2 separate regions of the Homo sapiens genome follow, and region 1 is linked to region 2. A link means that fine-mapping ties the variant in region 2 to the expression of a gene that starts in the linked region. Tissue or cell type: whole blood. Region 2 holds a variant in brackets; the other region holds the start of a gene. All regions are shown on one strand. Distances are between the middles of the regions. Region 1 holds the start of FRY (FRY microtubule binding protein). Region 2 overlaps FRY (FRY microtubule binding protein).

What was found. PIP is the estimated chance that this variant, and not a neighbour inherited with it, causes the effect. A credible set is the group of variants that fine-mapping cannot tell apart.
Region 1: FRY starts here. The variant in region 2 is the best candidate, but not a certain one, in a credible set for the expression of FRY in whole blood (GTEx, PIP 0.81).

The regions. Positions count from the first base shown.
Region 1 is chr13:32,029,785-32,035,165 of GRCh38, forward strand. It overlaps FRY (FRY microtubule binding protein), which reads left to right and starts at 1,990. Exons shown (of 61, transcript NM_023037.3): 1 at 1,990-2,081. The coding sequence starts at 2,012. It overlaps FRY-AS1 (FRY antisense RNA 1), which reads right to left and starts at 1,855. Exons shown (of 4, transcript NR_103839.1): 1 at 1,667-1,855.
Region 2 is chr13:32,106,950-32,112,330 of GRCh38, forward strand. The region is part of intron 3 of FRY (FRY microtubule binding protein); the gene reads left to right. Among named protein-coding and RNA genes, the nearest start is that of FRY, 78 kb to the left of the region's middle. The variant G/GAT (reference allele first, on the strand shown) is at 2,209.

The DNA.
Region 1 (5,381 bases), 77 kb before region 2:
CCCTTTCATACATAGTGTTATTTATTGTTTCCAACAACTATAGGAAGAAGGTACAACCCCATTTTACAGATGAGGAAACGAAGGCTTAGCAAAGTTAATAGCTTACTTTGGGGCTCAAAGCTAGTAAGGGCTGGTGCCAGGAGCGAACATGGGGCCCTGCCTTGAGAGCCCATGCCATCGTTAATCGCAGGGCACTGTGCAGCCTACCTGTTCATTCACTGCCATCTGAGTCTTGGCAAGCATCAGATGGGCGTAGGTATGAAATTTATTTTCAGATATAATAATTGTTTCAAGGTAAAACCTTTGGGTCTTATTTTACCTAGAATCCATACATTCAAAGTACAAGTGATAAAATCAGTTCAGCAACTCTAGTATGCACATGAATTAAAAAGAAGTCAATCTGGTGAGAGATTTCATCAGAATAAAGTGTATAAGTGGAGTTGGAAATCTGAGTGATTGAGTGCTTGCCATTTGGGTAAGTGTAATGAGTTTGAAAAACTAATTGTATTGATGAAGTATCTTAGGGCCTTTCAGAACATAGTTCTAGAAGTTTTATTTAGTGTTGAATTTTAAAAATTCTTTGTCCTAACAATAAAAGTACATTGTAGTCTTTCCCTTCCATTTTTAAAATGAACTGTTAATCTAGGAAGTCCTGTTTGTGTGTTGATTTGGGGAGTTAGCCCAACATTTGCTATGTTAAATACTTATTAACATGGTTTATTACTTTTTTCTGTTTTTTAGACAACATTAATCATGAATGTACTGGGACTTGGGAAGGATCCTGTGGTTTATGAGATAGTTGGCCAAATCCCACCTCTTCCAACATAACCTGTCATTATTAAAATATAATACTCTTATTTAATCCCCTGGTCAAGCTAAATGATAATGTGAAACAAAGCTAACCAAAATCAGGACACCTGATATCAAGAATTCATGAAATCAAGAGCCATTGTAGAGCAAGGAATCTAATGCTTTTGCTTCTTATCCTTTTCATACAAATAAAATAAGCTTCACTGGGCTTAGTGAGTCTTAGAAATGAGAGGTTTGAGAATAAGATCCATTGTGGAGTGTGTGACATTACAAAAACAAGCCAACTAAGCAGTGTGTACTGTCCCCTTAGAGTGCACACGTTCGGGCTCCGATGCCCCTTGAAAAGACTGCATTTCTGGGAGGGAAAAGTAAAAATGCAGATACCACCATGCGTGTGGAAGGCAGGGAAGAAAAAGCCCAGACAAGCGTCCTCTTGTTGAGTCTCTTTACTGCAACGAGGCTGACGGATGGGGTTTTTCAAAACGTCGCTGCAACCAGATGCAAGGCTGCAGCTTTGCTTACCGCAGCGTGCTGCAGTTGTGTTTATTTCAGGGACAGACACAAGGGGAAGCAGCAGCCAGAGCACACCCGGGCCGCTCACGGGAAGCCTTGCTGAAGAGAGAGGATCCGCAGAAGCTGGGAAATTCCTCCCGCAGCCTAGGCGGAGACTGAGCCGCGGCTCAGGTTGAGACAGTGGGCAGGGGCAGGGGGCGGCGCTCCCGGCCCATCCCTTAGCCCCGCGGCGGCCGTGTGGGCCGGAGGCTGCCTGCACCGCGTCAGGGAGGCCGGCCTAGAAACCCTCCCTCCCAGAAGAAAGCCGATCCCAGTTCAGGTGGGGTCTTCCTCGGTTGCGTACCTGGCTGGAGCCGAGCTGGTGGGCGGCCGGCAGCCGGCGTTTCTGGTGATGACAGCCCCGAAATGAAAGCAGCGCGGCCGCCGCCTCCGAGGGCTGCAGGGAGATCAGCGTCCAGCAAATAAGAAGCAAGTCCTGGACCCGGAGGAGGAGGAGCGGCCGAGCATCTCTCTCTGCTCCGCCGTGTCCTTTAGATGAGCACTCCCGGCCGGAGCCGGAGGTGGATCCGCAGAGCTGCCTCTGGGCGCCTGACCCCGCGCTGACATCACAACCTGTGACAGGCGCATCACGCCCGGTACCTGCTCCCGGCCGCTGCCCGTCCTCCCAGCCTCTTTGTATGCCGCAGACATGGCCAGCCAGCAGGATTCGGGCTTCTTTGAGATCAGTATCAAATATTTACTGAAATCCTGGAGTAATAGTGAGTAATAGAAAATAACCTTTTTGTTTGTTTGTTTGCTGGATGTTGCATAAGGCTGGAGACAGAAAATCTCAACTGGACACATATGTTTGTGAGCCGCGGAAGTTTTTCTTTTTTTCTTTTCTTTTCTTTTCTCTTTCTTTCTTTCTTTCTTTCTTTTTCTTTCTTTCTTTCTTTCTTTTTTTGCTCCCATCTGCTGTGAAAATCAAAATGTCAGAGACTGAACTAGCTTTCCTTAAGTGCAAAGGCTGCAATGGAATTACAGTAGATTGTGTTTGATTAAATTTTCAAGTGAGGCAGCCCTTCAGACTCTGGGGGAGCTCAGGATCAGGCATTCCTGGCTGCATTTCCTGCCTTGATGTTTATTTGATTTGTTCAGGCTTTCTCTAAATATTTTGTGAAGTGTGATTTAATCAAAGGGGTGTGGCAGGGTTTCAGAGTACTTTGTAATTGTTTTTTTAGGGTATTGTCTGAAGAAAGAAAAGTATTTAATAGTCCAAAACCTAGGACATCCTTTTTGTATATAGAGGCATCTGCAGATTTATTTCATCTCTCCCTCTTCCATGTGGATGATGTTCTGAATGCCATTTAATATTTGAATTTTTAAAAATCCTGATGTTTGCTATAGTCCAAATATTGTGCTTTTTTGAAACATAAACAAGTGAGGTTCTGACCCTAATTATTTATTAGGATAGCAGAATATGATGGCTCCTGAAGTTCCATTTCTGACCTACATAAGGATTTTAGCAATACGCTATTTCAAAAAGACAACCTCTAAGCTGCCGTGGATCTGGAATCAAATTAAAATGAGGCCTTCAGGTGATCAATGATGCCTTGTATTTTCCGAACTGTTTAAAAAGAAAGTCTTCTCTATTTCACTAACAGCCTTTGTACTTGCTTTGGATAAAAGATCAGCAGGTATTACTGATGCTTTATTGTTTTAAATAAAAAAATTTTTTCCCCGTGAAAATTTTAATATTGTATTATGTGCATACTGATTAACCTACCTGTGCTCAAAGAGCTAGTGATTAATTGTCTCCTACACAAATGACCTGTGGCCAAGATTGTTCTTATATAAACAAAACCTGGGCAGGAGAACCTGTGCTGCAATTGCTTTGAGGAAAAGAGCTAAAGTACCTTCAGCCTTAAGGTATTCAGGGATGTGCATCTCTAAATGATATCCATAGAAACCATTTTTTCCAGGTCATTTTGCACCACTGTATACACTATGGGGCTTGTCTGAAGCTGTTTTTCTACAAGTGGGAAGCCATTTGGGAGTAATACTGTTGCCCAAACAGCATTCTTTACTTGTCATAGCTATAAATCATTTAACTTGGACTCATTATTTTTATAATACTTTACACTCAAGGATGAATCTTCCTTTGTCTATCTGCTCTTTGATTAATGAAAAGAATTTGACATACAGTGTTCTTTATGGAGCAGTTTTCCAATAACTGAAAAAACTCACTTTTGAGTTGACATCAGTACGTGGTTTTTAAACATATTTGATTATTCCAAGACCAGACTGTTTTCTTCCATCAATTTTTGTCATTGCATCATTAAATAGAAAATTATGTTGTGACAATACTGAGGCCAATGGGATTTCTTTTAAAAATTTCTCTCCCCTTGTCTATTTTCAAATCACTCTAGATAAAGTATATATTCTCTCCACCCTTCCTAAACTCCTCTCCCCACATACATACTTCAGGAAATGATTCAAAATGACTGTTCATTTCTACTTTGAGAATATCTGTGATACAATTTTGAATTCTTCCAATTCATTCAGCAAATATTTATTGAATACCTACTATGTGCCAGGCTGTGGGGCTACACAAGGTGAATAAGACACAGTCCCTGCCCACTATATTAATTTTTTTATTTCAGAGTAGTGAAGTTGGTGGCTTTCCAGCATTCTTTTGAGGGGGAGAATGTTTTTCAGTCCTTTCTTGAAAGAGGAAGAGGAAATATACTTTGTTTATCTTCTTTAAGCTTGTTACAACACTAACCTGCTTACAATCTAGCATAGTTCTCATTGCTAAGTTTTACATATTTTGAGCAGCAAAGAGAGAAAGGAATTTGTCTGTGTAGAAGGCAAAGTAGAAACAGAAGCCCTAAGGCTCAACATACTCAGTGTAACCTTGGCTGAGAGGATGCACCATGAGGCAAGCGGCTAATTGCACCTGCATGCACCTGCACGCGCATGCCTGGCCTCACAAGTTTGAGAGGTGAGGATGTCTGCCCACATACCTGAATGGAGACTCAGCCTCTTAATTATATGGTGGTGCTTATTTACAAAAGTGCAGTAATTAAAAAGCAATAAAACAAACTCTATAACTATGACTGGCTGTTTTGCAAGGTGTTAGAAGAAAGGTAATTCCATAAGCGTTTCCAGGTAAAGCTTTCCATATTTTTTTAAATGGCACATTGTGGGGAAAATGTAATTATATATATATTAGTCCCCTCCAAAGAATTCACAGGCCAATAAATAGATCAGTCGCTGGCTAGTGAGATGTACTAGCTTTCATTCGATGTTCATTTTGGTGTTCTCCTCTTTATCGGCACGTCTACTCTGTCATGCTGCCCTTTGATTTGAATGGAGGTGGGAATTAAAATGGCCTTGATGTCTGGAAATAAAATGTCCTATGTAGACCTGAATATGGAGGCTTTCCTGTCCCCTTGGATGTCTGTCCTGTTGCTCTTCCCTGCTCTTATCCAGCCTTTCCCCAGCTGTCTAGTGGTTCTCACGGCTGCGGCCCCTTGTTAATCATGGCCACAGCCTCCACATGCCCTTCTCAGTTTAACCTGGAATGCTCCAGTGGTGTCCTCACAGTCAAAGGCTGCTCCCCAGCTCCCTTTTGCCTCTGAGTGTCAGTGGTAGCCACTCAGGACCCTCTTTGAGCTCCTCGTTCATCCTCTCTCATGTTTTTCTGCTCCAGCCAACCAAGCTTAATCTACTCACTCTCCTCTGTATTTAACTAACATGCTCCCAAATTCATGCCTGTACACCCATCAGTCTCCTAATAAGGCCTCGCTTACCTAGAATGTAAAAATGGCAGGGCCAAATGGGCTTCAGATCTCTTGCTCCTGCACTTGCATGGCTTCGGACAGTTAAGTAATCACTCTCAGTTTCCTCATCTGTAAAATGTACGCAAAAATAATGGGTACCTCATAGGAGTAAATGAGGTATTAAGATGTAAAGCACTTAGCACAATACCTAGCACATTGTAAATGCCCAATAAGCATTAAAATAATATTCATGTATTCTAATGCCCTCCTCCCTTCTAAATCCACTTCAAATCG
Region 2 (5,381 bases):
TATTTAGAAGCTAAAACTTCATGTTTTCTTTTATATTTTATATTTTTACACTCATAATTTTATTGGTTTAGTATTTCTAAATTTAACCTAATTACACTCCAACTCTGTAAGAATAAACCTGGAAGGGCCTGGCGTAATGGCTCACGCCTATAATCCCAACACTTTGGGAGGCCGAGGCGGGTGGATCACCCGAGCTCAAGAGTTGGAGACCAGCCTGGCCAACATGGCAAAACCCCATCTCTACTAAAAATACAAAAATTAGCCAGACGTGGTGGCACGTGCCTGTAATCCCAGCTACTTGGGAGGCTGAGGCAGGAGAATCGCTTGAACCTGGGAGGCAGAGGTTGCAGTGAGCTGAGATTGCACCACTGCACTCCAGAGTGGGACTCTGTCTCAAAAATAAAAAATAAAAATAAAGAAGAAACCTGGAAAAAAGATTTTATAAATGACAAGATGTCTAAACAGGATTTTTAAAGCTCAGTGTTAGTAGGAGAAATATACTAGTGAATGCTTTACACATTGGAGAACTAGGAATTTGTGCCCTCATTTCCAGAATTTCACTTTTCACAAACTTCAGGAATATGAGTTTTTTTCCATTGTTATACAGCACCTACCTCCTGGCAACCATGTGCCAAGCATTATGCCAACTCATGGAAACAAACAGGAAGGAAGCATAGTGCCTGCCCTAGAGGCCCCACCACTGGAGTCTCGTTGGAGAGAAAAATAGAACTACAATCAGATAAATGATAACCGCAGACTAGTAAGTAAGCTAAAGCGGGTGTGAGCCTCAGGAGAGCAAACTTCGCCCTGCCCTGAGGAGCCAGGGAGGCCTTCATGGAGCAGGCAGCAGAGGTTCAGAGCAGTATGGGCTATCCCTTCTGGTCCATGCTAGTGATAAAGTCATACCAGTAACAAGAATCAATAAAGGCAGAAGAGAATTCCAACAGCATTTGAAGATGTATATACTATCACTATTTATTTTAAATTACTATAGTAACTGTCAGGGCTTAGCGAGTAAAAGGAACTAAAAATCGTTCTGGTAATAAAGTAATTTAGCAAACACTTACTGTGCATGTGTATATGTATATACATACACACAAAGTTTTATATGAGACAAAGAGATGTAAGAATGTGGTCCCCAGGCATGTGTTTCACATTCCAGGAGCTCCAGATCTGGAAGAGGGTCAGGCAGTGCACAACCAGCCTTGACATAGGCCTGCATGTGTAAGAAGTGCCACATGAATGGTGTGGACAGTAAATATGCTGAGACTTCAGGGACAGAAGACACATGCCTCAGGACCAGTTGCCTAGCTAGAAAATGCCTTCTAGATGAGAACAAGATTTATCAGGTGCCTAAAGCAGTAGAATCGATAGGATTTGCTGAGTGTTGATGATGAGGAAGATAGGAAATTTCAGAAGAAAGGAACATTTTATGCAAAGGTCCTGAACAGAAAAATGACACTATCAGTTATCTTTGAGGAACCTAGAAATTGATCAATTTAGTTGATGCAGAAGGCATGTATTGTTAAAGGATAATCTTCAAAAACAGGCAAAAATATGACTCACATAGAGATATAAAATGAACCTGTATTAAACATTTTATTTAACTTGTTATTAGTGCAGGATGTTACAACCAGTTAAATTCCAAAAAACAGACACATTTATAAATCATCATTGAAATGAATGCAATCAGAGGCAAAACTGGCTTCTTTCATGTGGGGGAGGGAAGTCCACTGAACCTTCACTGGACAGTTTTTCATGTCTATAGACAAGAATTATTTTGCATTGCTATCAGGTATCTACCATTTATACAATTTTAAAATAGCTCAAAGGCATTGACAGGTATAGAGCCCCCATAGACTCAGAATCAGATAACCCCTTGAGAGGTATGCTTTAGTTTTCCATTGTAAACAAACATTTCCTACAGTCTGGCAGAAGTTAAAAAAGAGATCAGGCGGCAGAGGTAGAAAGGGATCAGATTGTGGAAGATCTTAATGCCAGTGGGATGGGGCTGTATGCATACCAGTATCAAGTTGTCAACTTGATGTTAGCCTTAAGGAGACAATGGTCATGAAGGCAGTAATGAAGAGACCTAAGGCATTTGGGGAACATGGCATTGATAAAGATTCTAAGCTAAAGGGGCCTAAACTAAAATGGAGGCAGTGAGACTATAAGAAAGGACGATTATAAGCAAAATTATATAAAAAG[G/GAT]ATAAACATTGGTTGAGAAAAGGAGAAACAAAGGATAACTGTAGTTTTAAGCATGATTTGGAGCGATTTCCATTCAATTAAACAAACAATGAGTGCCTGACACATACTAGGATCTGTGCAAGGTGCTGAAGTCACAAAAATGAATAAGACAGAGCCCTGTCCTCCAGGAATTCTCAATCCCAGAAGGAAGACAGTTATCTACACAAATAAAGTGGCAATGTAAACGCTATAATAGAGGTTGTATCAAGTGCTCTAGGAACTCAGATAAAGGAGGAGTTAATGATGCTAGGAAGGTACACAAGTGTGTGCTACAAGAAGCAACCAAGGAGCAGTGACATTTAAAATAAGCCTTTTATCCAGATGAACAAATTGGGCCAGGGTATGCCAGGCAGCAGGGGTCTCACAGACAAAGGAGAAGTTGAAGGTGAAAAGAGCAGAGTGCTGGGAATGAGGGTAGAAAGGTGGACTGAGCCCATTGCAGTGGGTAGTAGGAGCCGTGCTGAGGGGTCTAGATTATTTTCTATGGGCTATGAGCTCTTCAAGCAGAGGAAACTATACTTGGGGGCAGAAGACAAGAGAAGGCTGTAAATCCGTTATGCATACTGAGTTTTCAGGGAAGGTGAAATATCTCAAGAAAAATAACGGGTTCAGTTTATTATGTGGTCACTCAACAAACACTGATAGAGACTAGAGCACATAAGTAAAGAACGTCATAAAGAGTTTAGTATCAGGAGGTGGGATCTACAAAAGAATGGCTAGAAAAAGGGTAGTTTGGAAAGTGGGAGAAGTCTAGAGATAGTGCTCTCTAGGGCAGGGATGGCCCATCACAGCAGCTGATGCAGGGACATCACGGAAGATGCAGACCAGGAAGAACTGGAGGTTAGCAGCTAGGAGCTCACTGGAAGTGGCTTTGAGGAAGGCTTTTGCTGCAATGGCTATTCATGGATGTGTAGAGTGCATTTTCATAGTCGATGGACTAATGTTAAATACTTTGAAGCTTACTTTCACAAGCTAAGTTATAGTGGCTGATTATGATTGGTAGCACCTAAATAACAAAGCAGCGTGCTAGAACATAATCATGGAACCAGTGATGAGTTCCTTATCTGGCATCTGTGGAGAGCATCTATGAATGAAAGGCATGTGAGCTCACCATTTTACCTTCAAGTGGTTTTCTTCGTTGTACAGACATCTTTTTACAATAAAAGTCCACAGCATTTTATTTCAGATTCTCCAAAGAAACAATAGCCAACAACAAAGAACTACTCATCCAACCGTGATGAGCGTGGGCCTGGGTGGGTGATGATCAAATTAGCCCATTTTTAAAAGTGAAAAAGCAACACTCCAAAATAACTCTTACTTGAGGGAGTTTGTGACCCTTACCTGTTGGAGATTGTATTAATGACAGCCACTAGATACAGTTACTCTCAGAAATGAAAATTCTAGCTGATGAATGAAGTCAGAAACGAATATTCTTTCACATACCTTCCAGCTACATGCAAATGCTTGCTTGTTGATTTGCTCTGCCCTTGGCTTTTAGACCTTTGCTTATGTAGTATTTAATGATGATATAAACATACAATGTGTTAAATAATACCAAAAATTGTATGCTGTACAATGTTTTTCTGTTTGAAGTATTATTTCAACTTTTAAAACAGTCTCATACAGTAAGTGGAAGTTATTTTCTCTTTGCATAATAAAGTCTGATTACTCTGCAAAGGAGCATGTGTCAGAGCAATCAGAATTCAGATCCTTATTGTCACAGATGAATTGTCCTACTATGCTTTGGCATTTCATGAGGAACAGCATAGAAGATAAGAGAAAGTACAGGAAGCTAATTAAGACAGGGCAACATCATAGGATTCTGGGGAAGAAATCCTTTCCAGGAGAACCTGGTGAATACTGTCATTTGCTCAGGAGACTTCAAGGGAAATTATTGCAAAAAAGGCCATTGGTTGGCCATTGAATTGTCCCTGCTGATTTTTCAAATAAAGGTGCCAATAATGTGGCAAGGACAGAAATCAGATTTCAGGGATCAAGAAGAGAGTTGGGGGCAGATGCAGTGGTTCACTCCTATAATCCCAGCACTTTAGGAGGCTGAGGCAGGTGGCTCATTTGAGGTCAGAAGTTTGAGACCAGCCTGACCAACATGGTGAAACCCCATCTCTACTAAAAATACCAAAAAAAAAAAATTAGCTGGGCGTGGTGGTGTGTGCCTGTAGTCCCACCTACTCGGGAGGCTGAGACAGGAGAATCACTTGAACCTGGGAGGCAGAGGTTGCGGTGAGCCGAGATTGTGCTGCTGCACTCCAGTCTGGGCAACAGAGTGAGACTCCATCTCAAAAAAAGAAGAAGGAGAAAGAGAAGAAGAGAGTTGGCAGTGAAGCAGGAAGAGGAAGCATCAGCATTGCATGGGTGATTGAGAATCTGTCAGGAAGAAGGACAGATAATTGAGAATTAGATGAGAAAGGGGAGAGCAGGATCATATGAGGGCTACATGTGTTTTACAGAACGCTCTTATACCAAATGAAGTACAGGAGCTTCACACTGTGCCTTCTTGCAGAGGGTTGTGTCCATTTGTCACAACCCACTTATATTTGGACTCAACACTTTTCTCAGAGTGGTTGAGGATCCTGAGTTAATTGGTTTTATTCAATTGATTGATTCTGATTCCAGAATAGTCATGAGTTACTATCCTCAGTGTCCTTTCTCATTGGCTTTGAAGTGAGCTGTTGCCTGCAGCAAACTCAGGGAGCCAGATGTTTGCTACCTTTCTCTCAAGGGTCTAATGCAGGACAGACATTGCTCAGTGACCTCTAATGCAAGCATTTGCAAGGCGCCAGGCAAAAGGCTTTGTATTTACATCTGCTGGAGTCAGAAAAGAATGGGAACACAAACTAAGTTGCAAGGGTTCTAATGAAGACCCTGGGAGTTTGTGCTTGGACACGGGATAGGTGGGGCTTTTCAGGTTCCCACAATATACTTAGAAAGTGACATTTCTTCAGCTCTGGTGAATAAAATCCTGACAGCAAATTCTGTTACTTATTCTGTTATTAACTTAGCCTGTGATCTCATCACAGTCATTTTTTGTCTTTTTTTTTTAATGCTCCTCTTTCTATATTTGGAAATGAAAGAAGGAAACACATTTTGGAAGGTTTATTATGTGCCCCACGTTT